Linked DNA regions of Homo sapiens. The protein of the gene in region 1 interacts with the protein of each later gene in a pairwise test. Each region holds a gene or a part of one and is shown in the gene's direction. Other genes may lie near its edges.

Region 1 (5,457 bases):
CCCAGTGGGGCCAGGTCCTGGAGAGCCTGTGGCTGAGACTGGGAAGACCAGCAGGGCCAGATGAGGCCATGGGAGCCGAAAGAAGGGTGCTGGTCTTTATCAGAAAAGCACTGGAAGCTGCTGAAGGGTTTTAAGCAGTGGCCTGACATGATCAGTTTGTGTTTTAAAAGGTCACTTTGGTGGCAGTTCATGGAGAATAGCTTGAGGTGACAAGACAGCAGACACGACGTGGGTCTCTGGGACTGCCTGTGCCGTTGTGGGCAGCCCCTCCAGAGCCCTGAGTCACGCAGCCTTCAGAGGCACCCATGGCTACGAGAAGCACAGTCTCTGCCTGAGGCTCCAGAGCGGCCCTTTTTCCCCAGCAGCAGACCTTGGGACCTGTGAGCGCTGCATCCAATTAACCATGGGAAGGGTCAGCACCAGCCACCAGCCCCTTAGGTGAGGACTCTGCCTGGGGCTCTGCTGATGGTTCCGAATCATGGAGCTGCAGAGAGCTCCTCCAGCCTGGAGACGTTCTTGGTGAAAGCTGTGGTCTAACTCCACCGGCTCTTCCTGCACATTGTATTCAAGAGGGGTGCCTGCCCCCGCTGACTCAGGAGCTCCGGTGCTGCAGCCGCCACGAATGGGGAGGTGGGCCCTCGATGTGGCCTTTTTGTGGAAGGCGGTGTTGACCCTGGGGCTGGTGCTTCTCTACTACTGCTTCTCCATCGGCATCACCTTCTACAACAAGTGGCTGACAAAGGTACCAGGAGGCCTTGCTGGGGCGGGGTGCTGGGATGAAGGTGGCCAGAGCCATGGCTACGGTGCCCTTCATGTTTAACAGGAAGGCACAAGCTTCAACCAGTCTAACTGGAAGCCAGTCACGGCTGGGCTGGAACAGGGCCCTCCAAGCCTGCCGTGCCAGGGTTCCCCTTCAGTGTTTGGATCCAGGGAAACCAAGGAGAGCGGGGGGTGTGAAGGGATGAGCTGGGGAAACTGGGGCTCAAGCAGCAGCTATTTACCCCACTAGAGAAGTATTTCAATATTTTAATAAGTGATACAACGTAGTGGGCCGCAGTGGCTCTCACTTGGGCATAGGCCGTGAGGAAGGCTGGGCAGGTAGCTCACAGGTGTGTTGAAATGGTGGAGACAGCACCAGGCTAGGATTGAGTCTCTTGGCTGCCACCTGTCTTCGTGACCTAAGAGTCTGTCATTCCAAGCGATGATACCGTAACTAAGGGCCCTACACACATAGCAAGGTCCTCATGAACCACCGAATGAGCCCCACTCCAGCAGAGGGGCGAAGAGGAAGAGGGAGCCGGTGGGGGGCAGGCTGTCTAAACCAAGCCGGGGTGTCTGCTTTGGGCTCCATACAGAGCTTCCATTTCCCCCTCTTCATGACGATGCTGCACCTGGCCGTGATCTTCCTCTTCTCCGCCCTGTCCAGGGCGCTGGTTCAGTGCTCCAGCCACAGGGCCCGTGTGGTGCTGAGCTGGGCCGACTACCTCAGAAGAGTGGCTCCCACAGGTAGGTGGGGGACCTCAGTGAGGGCAGAGCAGGAAGAGGGGCTGGGGAACCATAGGATGAGAACAAGAGAGACACCCGCATGTCTGGAAGCCAAGTCCCTCCCCTCTTCCTGCACTGTTCCTCCTCTGCCCTCTTGACCTGGCCTCCCACCACCCACGCTGCTGCCTCTTGTGCACTGCGTGCCTTCCCACTGCCCCACCACACACCCACAAAACCCCCCCTGCACCTGCGGCCCCGCAGCTCCCTCTCCTGCCAGCAGACACCGAGCCTGGAGTGCAGCCCTCAGGCCTGGAGATAAGTGGTGAGCAGGCAGGGTCCCTGCCCTCGCAGGGCTGTGACACGGACATGGAGGGCACTACGGAGCCCAGGGAGGGGACCAACCCAAGGCCGGGGCCCATGGCTGGTAGAGGAAGATTTCCTAGGCCAGGTGCCAAGTAGGCAGAGCCCTGAAGGATGCGTGGGACTGGTTGGCCCTGGGAGGAGGGGCCCTCGTGGCCCGAGGGAGATTTAGTGCCAGCTGTGGGGTCTGGAAGGGAACTCAAAGTGTTTCAGGATACTGAGAACCCGGTGCTGGCCAGAGGAAGTGGGAAAAATGAGAACTGAGAGGGTGGGCAGGGGTCATGTCCTGGAGGCCGGATTCCCCGTGGAGGAGTTTGTGTTCCATCCTGAGGGAAAAGGGTTTCCAGTAAGGGATCAACCAGATCAGGTTAATACCTCCGCTCAGGGGGCTCGCCGGAGTGTTTGTGGAAACCATACCGGCCCAGCCAGTTGGAATGGGCCCCAGCCCTAATGCTAGAGCAGCCCCCGACCTTTGGGGGCCAGATATTAACCCTTTAGTTGCTGGTGGAAAAGAAGGCCCAAGGGCCCCACAGGAGGCACCGGGATGGTTCAGAAGTGGGGGACACTCAGGTGCCTCAGGGTACCAGCCCACCCCAGCAGAGTGTGGACCTCCCAAGCTGTCCTGTGGGTGCCTGTGTCTTCACAGCTCTGGCGACGGCGCTTGACGTGGGCTTGTCCAACTGGAGCTTCCTGTATGTCACCGTCTCGCTGTGAGTACTGGCCATGCCCTGCTGCCTCCCTTCAGGCTGAAGCTGTCTGTCTGTCCAGCGGGGTGTCTGCACACCCGGCTGCTAGGCCAGCCACTCCACCACTCTGGGACCAGCCCTTGCTCTCTCAGCCTCTCCCTGGCACCCAGCAGCTCTCCGGGAAGTCGCCAGCCTCTTCCGTAAGCCCAGCGCAGAGGAGATGCTGTGCCCACCTGCCAGGCAGCGTGGGGAAGCCAGGGAGCTCTCCCAGAACCCCATCATCAGAGCAGGGGAAGGCAGGCTGCAAGGCCACAGACAGGTGGCCACTGGTGGGTGGTACACGCAGCCGCAGCAGAGCCCTATGTGGCCTGGGGGCTACACAAGAGTTTCTTCTTCCCTCTGATGTTTTGCTTCAGAGAGCACTGTTCCTGCCTTCTTGTCCTCCTACTTCTCATCCTTCCTTCCCGCTCCTGGGCTCTGCCGAGGGTTAGGTAAAGAACAGGACTCAGGGAGCTCAACGTCAGACCTGTAACCTCTTCTCTCTGGTGATAACCAGAGGCCTCTTAGTCAGAGATTCCTTCTGATTAAAGGTCGCTTATCACTCAGATGACAGCCCAGCTCTGTTTGGTCATTTCGCTCAGTGATTTGTGCTCCTGCTCCTTTCTCGGTGATGGGTCTGAGCCCTGAGCTCCAGCAGTGCATTGTGGGTAATTTTGCTTCCAGGTACACAATGACCAAATCCTCAGCTGTCCTCTTCATCTTGATCTTCTCTCTGATCTTCAAGCTGGAGGAGCTGGTGAGGCCCCAGCGTCTCTTGTGTCCTTCCTGCCCCCACAGATGCTAAGAATAAAGTGGGAGTCTGAGCAGTGGCTTGTCCTGCTGTGTGACAGAGGAGACAAGCCCAGTCCAGGTGGCAGTAGATCCCTTTCTGAGAAGGGACCTAGACATGGGCAATACTCAGAATATTTAGAAACCAGTGTGGCAGGGTAATGACCAAAGGTGAAAGCACTGCAGGATGAGGGTCCCAGCAGAGCTGGGTCTAGGAAGCACCCTGCTGTGGGAGGCAGTAGCCCTGTGTGTTAGGCCCAGGGAGGAGGTGGGACCACTTGGGGGCCTAGGACAGCCGTCAGTGTGGCAGAGCAAGCAGGGCTGTTGGCATACCAGCTGACCGTCAGCCCTACATGCTGACATTGGTGGGCAAGGACTGTCCAGGACCCCCTGGGATGGAGCTGAAGGGTGGAAGGATTTCTTGCCCCAGGGGCAGCCAAGATGGCTGCTGACCCCAGGCTCCAAATGTGATGAACCCTTGACCCTCAAGACCCCCGAGTTAGCTGCCACTGCTCCCCATCCTACCAGCGCGCGGCACTGGTCCTGGTGGTCCTCCTCATCGCCGGGGGTCTCTTCATGTTCACCTACAAGTCCACACAGTTCAACGTGGAGGGCTTCGCCTTGGTGCTGGGGGCCTCGTTCATCGGTGGCATTCGCTGGACCCTCACCCAGATGCTCCTGCAGAAGGCTGAACTCGGTGAGCACGTGCCACTCATCCTCCAGAGAGAGGAACCCCGGCACAGGCAGGGCGGAGGCAGGGCAGGGCCGGACCAGACCTGATGGTGCCTGTCCCCCGCCCTGCAGGCCTCCAGAATCCCATCGACACCATGTTCCACCTGCAGCCACTCATGTTCCTGGGGCTCTTCCCTCTCTTTGCTGTATTTGAAGGTACGTTGGGCCTTCCCTCTCAAGGGCACCTCAGTGCAGCAGACCACAGATCCTCGCCCTGAGCCCAACACAGTGGTAGCTGCAGAGATTATTGAGATCAAAGATGCAGTCCCTCCCCTGGAAGCGCATGGTTTGGGGTCCAGCATGATAAACGCTACAGAGAAAGCACATATAAAATTCAGGGAACAGTAACAGTAAGTGTGCACAGAGCCCTGAAAGTGCACCAGGGCTGTTCTGATCTTTTTAAACATAGGAACTCATTTCATCCTTCCAAAAACCTGGTGTGGCAGTACTATTATTATCCCCCATTTTGCAGGTAGAACAAAATGAGGCCCAGAGAAGTAAAGATAACTTGCCCAAGGTCCCATAGCTCGTAAATGAGCCAGAATTTGAAGCCAGCAGCCTGGCTCCAAGTGGTCCAGCCCTACTCTTAACCACCCTATCTTGCCTCTAAGGAATGGGGAATCAGGGATTGTTCCAAGATGCTGGAGTAATCAGGCAAGTCAGAAAGGCTTCCCAGGCCGTGGTTTGGAGGGTGAGTGGGATTTTGGCAGGCTGCAGGGAGCAAGGCATCTCGGAAGTAGGAATAGGAGGTTCAGCCATGTCCAGGAATATAACCTGGGGATGTGTGTTCAAGGAGTGTGGGCCACGCAGGATCAGCAGAGGGTGGGCTTCCAGAGCTGGGGGCTGAAGACCAGGAGCCAGCACACAGGAGCCTGGGGACATGGTCAGTTGTTCCTCCACTGTCGTCCTCCAGGGATGAGGAGAGCCCTGGAGAACTGTGTAGGCTGGGAGGTGTGACGCCACCTTCCTTTCTTTGATGTTTTGGGATTAGCCTTTGTCCCCTTTCTGTTTATCCTTCCTCCCAGAGTCCCGTCTGTAATGCCCTCAGGGTCATTACAGAAAATTCTGTCCCACATCCATTTAAGTTTCAAGCAGTGAAGCGTCTTGAACCTCCCCAAGAAAATTATTCTGAAGCCCCGTTGTCCAGGAAACTTCTGTTCAGGGCCTCGTTTTTTTTCCTTCTTTAAAATCTCTCCCCACTCCTTCATTATGCCCCCTTGTACCAAACGCCACACTCTCCCTCCCCTCCCGTGTGTTTACACCATGCCCCATCTCTGCAAAACCTCATCTGAAAGCCCCTGGTAGTCGTCACTTGGCAAAGCTGCATGGATTTAGCTCCTTTAATCTTTTCTGGTAAATTAATCCC
Region 2 (4,048 bases), on another chromosome or scaffold:
TAGCACCAAAAATGTAGGAAGTAGTCTTCCAATATTTAAAACTTATTATCTGATTCAGTCATCATTGACAGGCAAGTGGAATTTGAACATGAATCTCCATTATTTGTTTTTCTTTATTTTATCTTATTAACATAGATCCAACGTTTGTTAGAACTGAGCTCATTCATCAATTGCAACCATAGTTCAGCTGCAGATGTGAATTGTTTGAAAAATCAACTAAAATACTCTGTGAGAATCGACTGAGATTTATAATAAAGTACATCGTAGATTTTATTTATGAAATTGTGTGCTATACATCTTTTAGTAGTTTATAATAAATTGTGTACCTATGTGTATATATAATTCTGTCTATATAAGGACAAGTGTGTGCACGTGTAGTCACATATGTGCATATTGCCTCTCTCTCCTAAACACAGAGCAGTTGTTAAATAGTTAACAGCACACCACTGGGAGTATTACTATTACCTTGAAGTTTTGAGTTAAAAGAACTCACAATTTTAGTTTAATAATTCTAATTTGAGCAATTGAACAAACTGAACTGATAACCAGCAAATTTGTCACTGGTACCTTCCATTTTACAGTGTCATTGTCTTTATATAGTGGTCTGTGAGCTGCCCATGGAAGTCGATTATTTCAGGTAGTCACCACGTAAGTGACTGTCATTCAATGCAGTGATTTCATGAGTGCAATATTTCTTAGTGTAGACGAACTTTACAGTGATAATCACTAGGAGAATGTTCACAATTAGGTAAAACATTCATGAAAGAGTGCTCCCCCACTCTGTTTGCTTTTAGATTTAAATGATGGGGGTAGTATCTCGCTTCTGTTTCATGTCACGCTGGTATTGAAGAGAGCAGAAAAGAGATTATCTTTTGTTTGATACCTTAAGAATGATGCAGAACATATGCTTAATGTCCATGTTTTAAGAATAATCTGAAGCAGTGTAGCACAAAAATGGTCTATTATTTCAGGCCTAATATTTTTTAATATGTATTTCTATTTGTGAAATATTATTTAAGGACATTGCTTTAAAATTATTCAGTATTAGACTGTCTTCTCTGACTTAGTAGAGATCTTTTTAATTTCCTCCGCAGCACTGAACAATTGAAAATATGTATAATATTCCTAACTTTTTTTGCAAGACTTTATTTTTCTGATATGTTATTGTACAATATTTAATTCTAAATTTATTTCAATTTCTCCCCCTTCAGTTTAATGAGTGGTGTTAAGAATAATGTTGGAAGAGGGATCAATGTTGCCTTGGCAAATGGTAAGAACAATTATTTTAGCTTATGGATGTAATCATTGGGTATTTTTCTGTCCCAAAGTAAAATGCACTATCAGAGGATCAGGTTAGAAAGTACTGCTCTTGATGATAAAGCCCTCTGTCCCATCCCTGCCCTGCAAAAAATCTATGGGTGGAGACTTGGTGTCTAAGAATTTATAGCGTGTTTCTTGAAAGTATCCTAACTTGCTATGCAAGAGCTTCCATGAGATTGTCAGAAACCAAGCAGTCTAACATCACATTGATAAAATCTTGCTTCAAATTTTGGAATCCTAACATAATAGGAAGATAGGTTGACAGGATTAAAGGCGTATGAAATGACAAAGGATGGTGTAGGGGGAGGAACAAAGAATAAGAATGTATTGTAATTTTTCATTATCAGCCACATTCTTCTGATAGCTTAATTAGTATGAATAAGTTGATTGAATCCTGAACATCTCAAATTTTCCTTCAAAATCAAATCTGAAAACATAAAACCATAAAGTGAGGCCTAACTGCATATTGATCCTCTCTGTTCTGGTACAATAAGTATTCCATAAAGCTATGTAGGATGGTTATAAGATATATAGGATGGTTAGAAACCACTGTAGTTTCATAGTGTAGAAAAATATATTTTACTACTTTCACAGCAAGAGGTAAATTTTTGTTCTTCTGCTTTCTTCATTTCCTTAGGTAAAAGGTTCAACATCTGTCTATTTCATTAATAGCAAAAAATACATTTTATAGGGCAAGTTAATGTAAGTTTTATTGTAAAAACTGATTTAATGTAGAAAATGGCATCTGATTCAAGGAGATACTTCTTTTTTGTAAAAGGTTTACTTTTGAGTAATTTTAAAATAAGAGAATATGGAAACAACGATGAAATATATCTAACCGAATTGGAATGGTCTACAGTCAGTAATGAACTTCTATTTATCCTTCGGCTTAAAAGATTAATGAGAAAGTTCTATTAAGAAATTACCCTTTAAAAATATATTTCAGGTGCATATGATTCAGATTTTAAGTTCTCAAAGTAATTCTTTGAGATGAATTCACATCTCTCTAATGCTAATGAATTCACATCTTCTCTGCTAATGAATTCACATCAATCATTGGATGAGATTATTGGTCTTACAGTGTATGATATATTTCAGATGCATAATTTGATATGAATTTAATCTCTTTTAGGAAAAACAGGAGAAGTATTAGACACTAAATATTTTGACATGTGGGGAGGAGGTAAGCATAAATAACATGACTGTGTTCTTTTGCTGGCACTGACTTAATCACCTCAATACAATGTAGCCCATTAATGAGAGAATGATGATGCTATTTGCGTTAGTTCATTTTGTTTCCCTTACTTTCTGTTCACTAAATGTCCAGCTGTATTTAAGTTATCATTCATGTTTTATATACTTTCTTCTTCTTAGAAAAAAATTTTTGTGGTGTATAATTGAAGATAGTAATATCAAAATTGAGATTTTTTTAAAAAAAGTCATCTTGTTTTCTACAGGACAACCAATTCAAAAGTTTTGGGCTCCTTTAAGTGTGTCTAAAATTTAAAAAAAAAAAGTAATTTGAAGACCAGAATAACCAATGTAAGCATTCCTAAGTGATAGGAATTGATTTTTTTTTAAATGTGATTTTTTAGTCTCAAAAATAAATCATTAGGAGCATTAGGAGCATTAGAAAGACAAGATAAACTATCAGTTTTAGAACAGCAGTCCTATTATTCATCACAGTTCTACCCTCTGACTTGCAGCTAATTTTTTAGGTAGATGAATATTTGAGGGAAGAAATAGAATTTTCTTTCTTGTAAAGCAATCCACAGATATTTTCCCCTTCCATATTTGGAAGTCCCACAAGGAGTGGGAAGAAGTTACCAGCACGCAGAGGCAAGGGACTGGCACCCCAAAGAAGAACGCTGCCCGGAAGAATGGGTTTTTTTCCTCCAGTTTGAAGGGAGGCCAACACTGGTTTATCTTTTGATTCTTTAATTTGGGAGATTGATCAGTATGAGGATCTCCCCTGCACCTCCCCATTCCATTTATATATTCCCTAGAAGCCAACAGCTATTAGGCTTCCTGAAATTCATGTTAAGAGTTCTCAGATAATTTAGCTTTTCCAACATATCTTCAGCTTGTAATAAGATGGTATGTAGCCGGACGTGGTGGCTCACGCCTGTAATCCCAGCACTTCGGGAGGCCGAGGCAGGCAGATCACGACGTCAGGAGATGGAGACCATCCTGGCTAACACAGCGAAACCCCGTCTCTACTAAAAATACAAAAATTAGCCGGGCATGGTGGCATGCACCTTTAGTTCCAGCTACTCCTTGGGAGGCCGAAGCAGGAGAATCCCTTGAACCGGGGAGGCAGAAGTTGCGGTGAGCCGAGATCTTGCCACTGCACTCCAGCCTGGGCGACAGAGCCAGACTCCGTCTCAAAAAAACAAAAGATGCCGTGTATTATTTTGTTATTAAATAATGTTAGGACAACATTGCATAGCTGTCAAAGCTGTATAAACTTAAAATGGGACCATCAATTTTAGATTCTAAAGGCATAAATTGGTCCTGCCAAAATTTATTGATAGAAAGAGTCTTACAAAGCTGTTGTTGAAATCAGTCATGTGACCAGGAGCTCTGGTATTCCTTACTTCTCTTGTCACAGGTAGATTAATTACCGCTAGCAGCATTCTTCTAGTTAGGAAATTGTTGCAGTTTATTGCCACTTTTGCATTTAAATGGAAGTAGTTTGTTAGCTGCCTTGTTATATCTTTTTGAATTG
Region 3 (4,048 bases), on another chromosome or scaffold:
TAGCTGAGACTACAAGTGCACACCACCATGCTTGGCTATCCTCATTTTTGGAGAATATTTTTGCTGGGTATAGAATTTGGGATTGAGTTTTTTTTTTTTTTTTTTTTTCTTCCGAGACAGAGTCTCACTTTTTTGCCCAGGCTGGAGTGCAGTGGTGCGATCTCAGCTCACTGCAACCTCCAGCTCCTGGGTTCAAGTGATTCCTGTGCCTCAGCCTCCTGAGTAGCTGGGTCTACAGGTAAGGGCCACCATGCCCAGATAATTTTTGTATTTTTATTAGAGATGGGGTTTCTCCATGTTGCCCAGGCTGGTCTTGAACTCCTGGCCTCAAAGCAGTCTGCCCACCTCAGTCTCCAAAGTGTTGGGATTACAGGCATGAGCCACCACACCTGGCCTGATTTTTTTTGTCTTAAAGCGTTATTAACAGTGTCATTCCTGTGTCTTCTAGTATCCTTTGTTCTGGTTAGAAGTGAGCCATCATTCCTATTGTTCTGTCTCTGTATATGTTGTATTGATTTTTTTCCCCATAAGACTGTTTCAAGAGTTTCTCTGTATCTCTGGTTTTCAGCAGTTTGATTATGATGTTTTCTTTGTATTTATCCTCCTTGGAGTTTGCTGAGCTTTTTGGATTTATAAGTTAATATTTTTCACCAAATTTGAGAAATTTTCATTTATTCTTTTTTTTTTTTGAGATGGAGTTTTGTTCTTGTTTCCCAGGCTGAAATGCAATGAATGGTGTGATCTTGGCTCACTGCAACCTCCGCCTCCCAGGTTCAAGTGATCCTCCTGCCTCAGCCTCCCAAGTAGCTGGGATTACAGGCATGTGCCATCACACCCAGTTTTGTATTTTTAGTAGTGACGGGGTTTCACCATGTTGGCCAGGCTGGTCTCGAACTCCTGACCTCAGGTGATCCACCCGCCTCAGCCTCCCAAAGTGCTGGGATTGCAGGTGTGAGCCACCGTGCCCAGCCCATCTATTATTTTTTTCAAAATTTTTTTATTTCTTATTCTGTCTTTTCTTCTTCTGGGAACTTTAATTACATATATTTTAGACCACTTAGTATTGTTCCTCAGGTCTCTAAATTGGATAATTTCTTTTGATGTTTAAGTTTACTGTCCTTTTCTTCTACTGTATCTAATCTGCGATTAAGTTCATTTAGTTAATTATTTATTTATTTATTTTTTAGATGGAATCTTGCTCTGTTGCCTGACTGGAGTGCAGTGGTGCAATCTCGGCTCACTGCAACCTCCGCCTCCTGGGTTCAGGCAATTCTACTGCCTTAGCCTCCTGAGTAGCTAGGATTACAGGTGCCTGCTACCATGCCCAGCTAAGTTTTTGTATTTTTAGTGGAGACGGGGTTTCACCATGTTGGCCAGGATGGTCTCGATCTCTTGACCTCGTGATCCCCCCGCCTTGGCCTCCCAAAGTGCTGGGATTACATGTGTGAGCCATCCTGCCCGGCCCATTTAATTTTTAAATTCAAACATTGTAATTTGCAGTTCTAGAATTTTCTTTCTTTCTTTTTTTTTTTTTTTAGGGGAGTCTCGCTCTGTTGCCCAGGCTGGAGTGCAGTGGTGCCATCTCGGCTCACTGCAAGCTCTACCTCCCGGGTTCTCGCCATTCTGCCTCAGCCTCCTGAGTAGCTGGGACTACAGGCGCCTGCCACCATGCCTGGCTAATTTTTTGTATTTTTAGTAGAGACGGGGTTTCACCATGTTAGTCAGGATGGTCTCGATCTCCTGACCTCGTGATCCGCCTGCCTCGGCCTCCCAAAGTGCTGGGATTACAGGCATGAGCCACTGCGCCCAGCCCCTAGAATTTTCATTTGAATCTTTTTACATTTTAATTTATTTTTTAGAGACAGGGTCTTGCTATGTTGCCTGGGCTGGGCTTGAAGTCCTGGCCTCAAGCAATCTTCCTGCCTCGACCTTCTGAGTAGCTGGGATTACAGGTGCAAGCCATCACATTGGCTCCTGATTCTTTTTTTAAAAAATAGTTTCCTTTTCTCTACTAAGATTCTCCATTGGTTCAGTTATTTTGACCATGTTTTCCTGTAAGTCCTTGAATATGATTTTTATAATGGGTGCTTTAAAGTCTTTGTCTGCTAATTTCAATATCTGAGTCATTTTGGGATTTATTTCTATTGACTGTTCTTTTTCCTCCTTAAAAATAGATCACATTTTCCTGGTTCTTTGCATGTCTAGTGATTTTTTTTTAGTATATATTGGACGTTGTGAATAATATGAGTCAATTTTGTTATCTTCATCTGAAAAGTATTGCTTTTTATTGTAACAGGCAGTTAAAATATTGGCTGATCACCTTGAAATTGTGGAGACTTGGTTTTATATTTTGTTAGGATATGTCCCCAAGGTGTTTACTGATCCTCCCTGACTTGGTGGAATGAAAATTCCAAAATGTCTCCCTTATTTTAAAGTGTTTGGGGCTCTCTTTGTGACTTACTCCTTTCCGAGATGTCCCCCTTCAATTTCCAGCTGTTATGGTGGTCCTGAACTCCCATCTTCTGGCATCTCAAGCCAAGAAGACTGTGGCTTTTTGCTGCCACTGTGGCCACTTTGTGCCAAGGGGACTCCCTGGGCTGGGAATGGGAGTTTAATGGGGTTCCTAAGGGGAACAGCTGATCCCACTTACTGTGTTTTCTTTCTTTTTTTTTCTTTGAGAGGGAGTCTCACTCTGTTGCCCAGGCTGGAGTGCAGTGGTGTGATCTTGGCTCACCCCAACCTCTGCCTCCTGGGATCAAATGATTCTCCTATTTCGGCCTCCTGAGTAGCTGGGATTACAGGTGCATGCTACCATGATTGGCTGATTTTTTTTCTTTTTTGAGATGGAGTCTTTCTCTGTTGCCCAGGCTGGAGGGCAGTGGCTCACTGCAAGCCCCGCCTCCCGGGTTCATGCCATTCTCCTGCCTCAGCCTCCCGAGTAGCTGGGACTACAGGCGCCTGCCATCATGCCCAGCTAATTTTTTTTTTTTGTATTTTTAGTACAGACGGGGTTTCACCATGTTAGCCAGGATGGTCTCTATCTCCTGACTTCGTGATCCGCCTGCCTTGGCCTCCCAAAGTGCTGGGATTACAGGCGTAAGCCACCGAGCCTAGCCGATTTTTTTTTTTTTTTTTTTTTTTGAGACACAGTCTCGCTTTGTCTCCCAGGCTAGAGTGCAGTGGCACAATCTTGGCTTACTGCAACCTTCGCCTCCCGGGTTCAAGCGATTCTCCTGCCTCAGATTTTTGTATTTTTAGTAGAGACGGGATTTCACCATGTTGGCCAGGCTGGTCATGAACTCGTGACCTCAAATGATCCACCCGCCTCGGCCTCCTGAAGTGCTGGGATTATAGGCGTGAGCCACCACGCATCTGGCTGTGTTTTCTTTCTTTCAAGGATGAAGTTTCTTTCAATTTCTGCCTGTTTTTCAGCCCTGTCCAGTGCTTTCAATTTTTTTTTTATTTCTTTCTAGAATTTATGGTGGCCTTGAAACATTTCATGTTTACATAATATCTTTGTTTTTAAAAATAGTATGCTACACTCCTATAGTTATTTAGGCACATGATTTTTCTCCTTCTTCCAGTTATGTCTTACTGCGTTACAGATTAATGCCAAAACCCTGTGGCTTAAAACAGTCATTTTATTATGTTTATTAGATTTTATGGGTCAGGAATTTGGAAGGGGCATAGCCAGGATGATGTATCTCTGCTCCATATATCTGGTGCCTTACCTGGGAAGGCTCAAACTTTTGGGATGGTGCTATAGCTGGATAGCAGTTACCTAAAAGTGTCTTTACTCATGTCTGGCAGTTAATACTAGCTGTTAGCTGGGACCTCAACTGTAACTGTGGGTCAGAACACCTATAAATGGTCTCCTTACAGCATGGTAGCCCAAGCATTAGTGTTCCAGAGAACCAGGCAGATGCTCCATTGCCTTCTGTGACCTGATCTTGGAAGTGGCATGGAGAAGTTACATAGCATCACTTCCTCTACTCTACTGGTCTACTAGTCTTTATTGTTGACCCAAATTCAAAGGTAGGACATAAAT
Region 4 (4,048 bases), on another chromosome or scaffold:
TGACTTAGAGATGTTATACACACTTTTCTTACTTGCTTTCTCTTTTCCTGGCCATGGGCCTTTTGTTCCTCCCTTCGTCATTCCTCCTGCAGGTACTGAGCCTCCCCCTTTCCGGCCTTGATGATCCTTTGTTCCTCATCCTGGATTCTGTATTTGTGGAGGAGTCACCTGGAACTCAGTCCTGCTGTGGATGGCAGAGGTGGTGATGGGGCTGGGGAGCTATCTGCATAAGTGCAGAGACTTTGTGCTTTTACAAACGGTGGACTAGAGGTACTTGGAGCACAGGGTTCTGTCTTTGAATCCTAGTCCCACTTTTGTGAGTTCTTGTGACCCTGAATAGATTGTCATGTTTAAGTTTTTTTCATTTATATAGTGGGGATAATAATTACTTTTCTACCTGTCTACATGGATTGTTAATGAGTTCCATTAACTTATGTACGTGAAAGAGCTTTGTACCCTGTGAAGAGTGCATAAACATTGGAATTAAAGAGGCAGGACATCCAGATGTGGGCCACCCCAGGCAGGCCCACTCAGCTCTGGCTATTGGGGGTTGGCAGTATCTCCACAAGCATGTTTTGAGTGCTAAGGGGGCACTGCTGCAGTTCTTCCATATTCCTCTCTCCCGTCCTCTGACATCATACTGGACTTCGAGGAGGAAATAGCATCAAAGGTTGAGAAACTGCTCTGTGGGGAATATGAGAGGAAGTTAAATTTCAGGACTGAGGTTACCCAACACTACATGATCGAAGGCATAGGGCAAAGTTCCAAAGAAGCTTTAATTTCGTGTTGGAATTACCTGTACTGTCTGCGCATCTCAGTTCTTAGTGGACAAACACAAACAGCTGGCCACCACCCATCCCACAGGTCAGGAGGAGGGTGCTGATGGCAATGTTGGACAATGTATTGGGTCCACCTATACCATCCTCACTCCCCTGTGCCTTCTTGCTGACTTGGGTCTCTAGTTTACTCTGCAAAGTTCTAAACTGACCAAAGGCATTGCTCCCCCACCCCCAAATTAAGCTAATTACTTAATTCAGTCTGAAAGATATTTGTTGCTCTCTACCTGTCCTGGCAAGCCAGCTGGAGGGTGGGGGAGGGGATTTAGTACCATTGAGGGGAAGGTTCTGACATCCTGGGTTATACCCACCCCTCTCTTCATCACCCCCAGTCTTATGTCCTCCTCTTTATTCCTCTTCCTTGGCTGGCCTCTTGTCCTGTGTATCTACAACCTTGAACTCCTCCCTTGCCCATGACCCCTGATACTGCCCTACTCCCATGATTCTGTCACCCCTCTTCAGATGTGAATCATTTGTACACCTCAGGCTGGGCCAGACTGGGTGTCACTGTGGAAAGCAACCTGCCCAGCACAGCCTGCCCCACCCCTTCCTGAGGATGTTCATCAACCCCTCTAATTACTCATCAGCTAGTCCTGTGTCTACATTGTTCCCTGGGACATTAAGCTGGAGCTTCTACTAGCCCTGGCCTTGACTCACCCATGTGCAGATTGACCAGTTATCAAGGGATGGCTTGGCAGGTGGCAGGGCTGGGTTGGAGGGCACATTAGCCCCTCCATAAGTGCACTATTTGGTCCAAAGGCCTTCCAAGCAAACATGCGGTCTAAATAAAAGCAGTGTATTTGCTTTATAAATGCAGCTTTAAGGCAAGCCCCTGGTCTCCCCTTTTAAGCCAAGCTATCCCGAAGCACATCCTCTGTAGAAATTCTGGAGCTGCCCCCAGACAGACTCAGACCATGTAATTCAAAGATAGGCAGCGGAGTCTATCAGCAGCATTCACTCCCTAAGGAGGTAGAAAGCCAGAGTTAAGACTCAAAGCCATTGGCAGTGACTAGTTATAGAAAACCAAAGCAAGGGATCAAGTATAGAATTTATTGGGAGCACATCAGTGAATCATTTACCTCCTGCCCTGTTTGATTTTTAGTAAGTCAGTTCGTCGAATGGGGGTAAGGAAGGCCTTTCTCTGGACAAAAACTATCACATGGGTCTGGTGAAGAGAAAATAAGTAGTATAATCTTTTTCTATGTCTCCATGGCATTAGGTTTGAAATCTCAATCTCTCCCTCTCTCTCCCTCCCTCCTTCTCTCTGTCTCTGCCTCTCTCTGTGTGTGTGTGTGTGTGTGTGTGTGTGTATGTATGTATATATATATATATAAAATATACATCATCAGTCTTTATTCTGAGAGGAAGTCATAGACATTATTCTCCATCACTCTTGAAAACACTCCAGCATAAAAAAAAAAGCAAGCACTCTGTCCTCCTATATAACCAGCGTACACCCATCAAATCAGGAAATGGACATTGATACAAAACACTATCATCCAATCCACAGAGCCCATTCCTATTTCGTCAGTTATCCCCCAAATGTCTCTTCTACCTGTCTGATCTAGGATTCATGTTACATTTAGTTACCATGTCTCTTCTGGAACGGTTCCTCAGACTTTCCCTGTTCCTAAAGTGTTTGCAGTTGTATAGGTCCTACATGCTGTAGGATGACTCCCAACCTGGCTGTATTGGGTATTTCTTCACAGCCTGACTGAGGTCATGCATTCTTGGCAGGAATCCTTCAGAAATGAAACTCAGCTCTTCTTAGCTTCTTACAACAGAAGGCACATGGTGCCAACCCATCCCACTGCTGGGATATTGACCTCAATCACCTGGTTATGTTGGTGTTTGCCAGATTTCTTCACCTTAAATTCGCCATTTTTCCTTCGTTTCCCTTTGTTTCCCCAAAGGTGTTTGAAAACACCTTTGTACTAGTGTTTGTGGGGAACTATTCTAGGGTTATGCAAATAGCCTGTTCCTCATTAAACCTGTACCTACAGAAACTACCATTTATTGATGACGTCTGCCTGAATCAGCCACCTCTATGAATGTTGCCAAATGGTGATTCTTTTTTTTTTTTTTTAAGACAAGGTCTCACTCTGTTGCCATGCTGGAGTGCAGTGGCATGATCTTGGCTCACTGCAGCCCCAACCTCCTGGGCTCAAGTGATCCTCCTGCCTCAGCCCCCCAAGTTGCTGGAACTACAAGTGCACACTACCACACCTGGCTTATTTTTTTTTTTTTGTATTTTTTGTAGAGATGGAGTTGGTTTCACCATGGTGCCCAAGCTGGTCTCGAAATCCTGAGCTCAAGTGATCCACCTGCCTTGGCCTCCCAAAGTGCTGGGATTACAGGCATGAGCCCCTGCACCCAGCCTCAAGTGATGATTCTTTATCACCGTCACTCTTTCTACATTTGTTAGTTGGCATACTACTATAAGGAAGAACTTTATTTTTCTGTTATGTTTTTACTAAGAACTGTTCATGGATTCCTTATGTATTCAATAAGTTGAAGTCTCACGATTGTTTTTTATTTTAATGCTCAAATTGTGCTCAATTTGGCCAATGGGGACCCCTTGGAGCTGCCTCCTGTGTCCTTTTAACACATCCCTATTATTCATTGAGCATTTCTTTATTTTCTGGCTCCACCAGATCATCTGGACTCATCTTCTACTTTCCTTGACCTAGTTAGGCCTCCCTTTTAGTAGAGAATGGTACTTTTGTCTTATTTATATTTTATATATTTAAGGCATACAACATGATATTTTCATGTATTTATCTTGATAAACATAGATGTAATGAAGTAATTACTACAGTCAAGCAAATTGACATGCCCATCATAGTTACCTTTCTTGTGTTTGTGATAAGAGTACCTAAAATCTACTCTCTTGGCAAATTAGCAGAATACAATATTTATTAATTTTAATTTTTTTAGAGACAGGGTCTTGCTCTGTACTACAGGCTGGAGTGCAGTGGCGTGATCATAGTTCACTGCAGCCTCTAACTCCTAGGTTTGAGCAGTCCTCCTATCTCAGCCTCCCAAGTAGCTAGGACTCCAGGTGCTCACCACCATTCCCGGCTAATTTAAAAAATATTTTTTAGAGGAGGGGTCTTGCTGTGTTGCCCAGGCTGGCCTCCAACTCCAGCCTTGAATCATCCTCCTGCCTTGGCATCCCAGGTGCTGGGATTACAGGTATGAGCTACCATGCT

The links. Proteins that work in one complex are often made in the same cells at the same time.
Region 2: the proteins of SLC35H1 (region 1) and FAM3C interact in binary tests that used the Homo sapiens proteins (3 or more experiments, as listed by UniProt).
Region 3: the proteins of SLC35H1 (region 1) and TMEM50B interact in binary tests that used the Homo sapiens proteins (3 or more experiments, as listed by UniProt).
Region 4: the proteins of SLC35H1 (region 1) and LPAR3 interact in binary tests that used the Homo sapiens proteins (3 or more experiments, as listed by UniProt).

The regions. Positions count from the first base shown.
Region 1 is NC_000020.11:46,353,672-46,359,128, reverse strand, and holds part of SLC35H1 (solute carrier family 35 member C2), read left to right. Parts: intron 1-170; exon of another isoform or gene 171-365; 5' UTR 366-403; coding exon of another isoform or gene 404-438; 5' UTR 439-570; coding exon of another isoform or gene 571-622; coding exon 623-742; intron 743-1,355; coding exon 1,356-1,506; intron 1,507-2,491; coding exon 2,492-2,555; intron 2,556-3,254; coding exon 3,255-3,327; intron 3,328-3,887; coding exon 3,888-4,056; intron 4,057-4,163; coding exon 4,164-4,247; intron 4,248-5,457.
Region 2 is NC_000007.14:121,361,352-121,365,399, reverse strand, and holds part of FAM3C (protein FAM3C precursor), read left to right. Parts: intron 1-1,211; coding exon 1,212-1,270; intron 1,271-2,452; coding exon 2,453-2,503; intron 2,504-4,048. UniProt on the Homo sapiens protein: May be involved in retinal laminar formation. Promotes epithelial to mesenchymal transition.
Region 3 is NC_000021.9:33,469,518-33,473,565, reverse strand, and holds part of TMEM50B (transmembrane protein 50B), read left to right. Parts: intron 1-4,048.
Region 4 is NC_000001.11:84,886,250-84,890,297, reverse strand, and holds part of LPAR3 (lysophosphatidic acid receptor 3), read left to right. Parts: intron 1-4,048. UniProt on the Homo sapiens protein: Receptor for lysophosphatidic acid (LPA), a mediator of diverse cellular activities. May play a role in the development of ovarian cancer. Seems to be coupled to the G(i)/G(o) and G(q) families of heteromeric G proteins.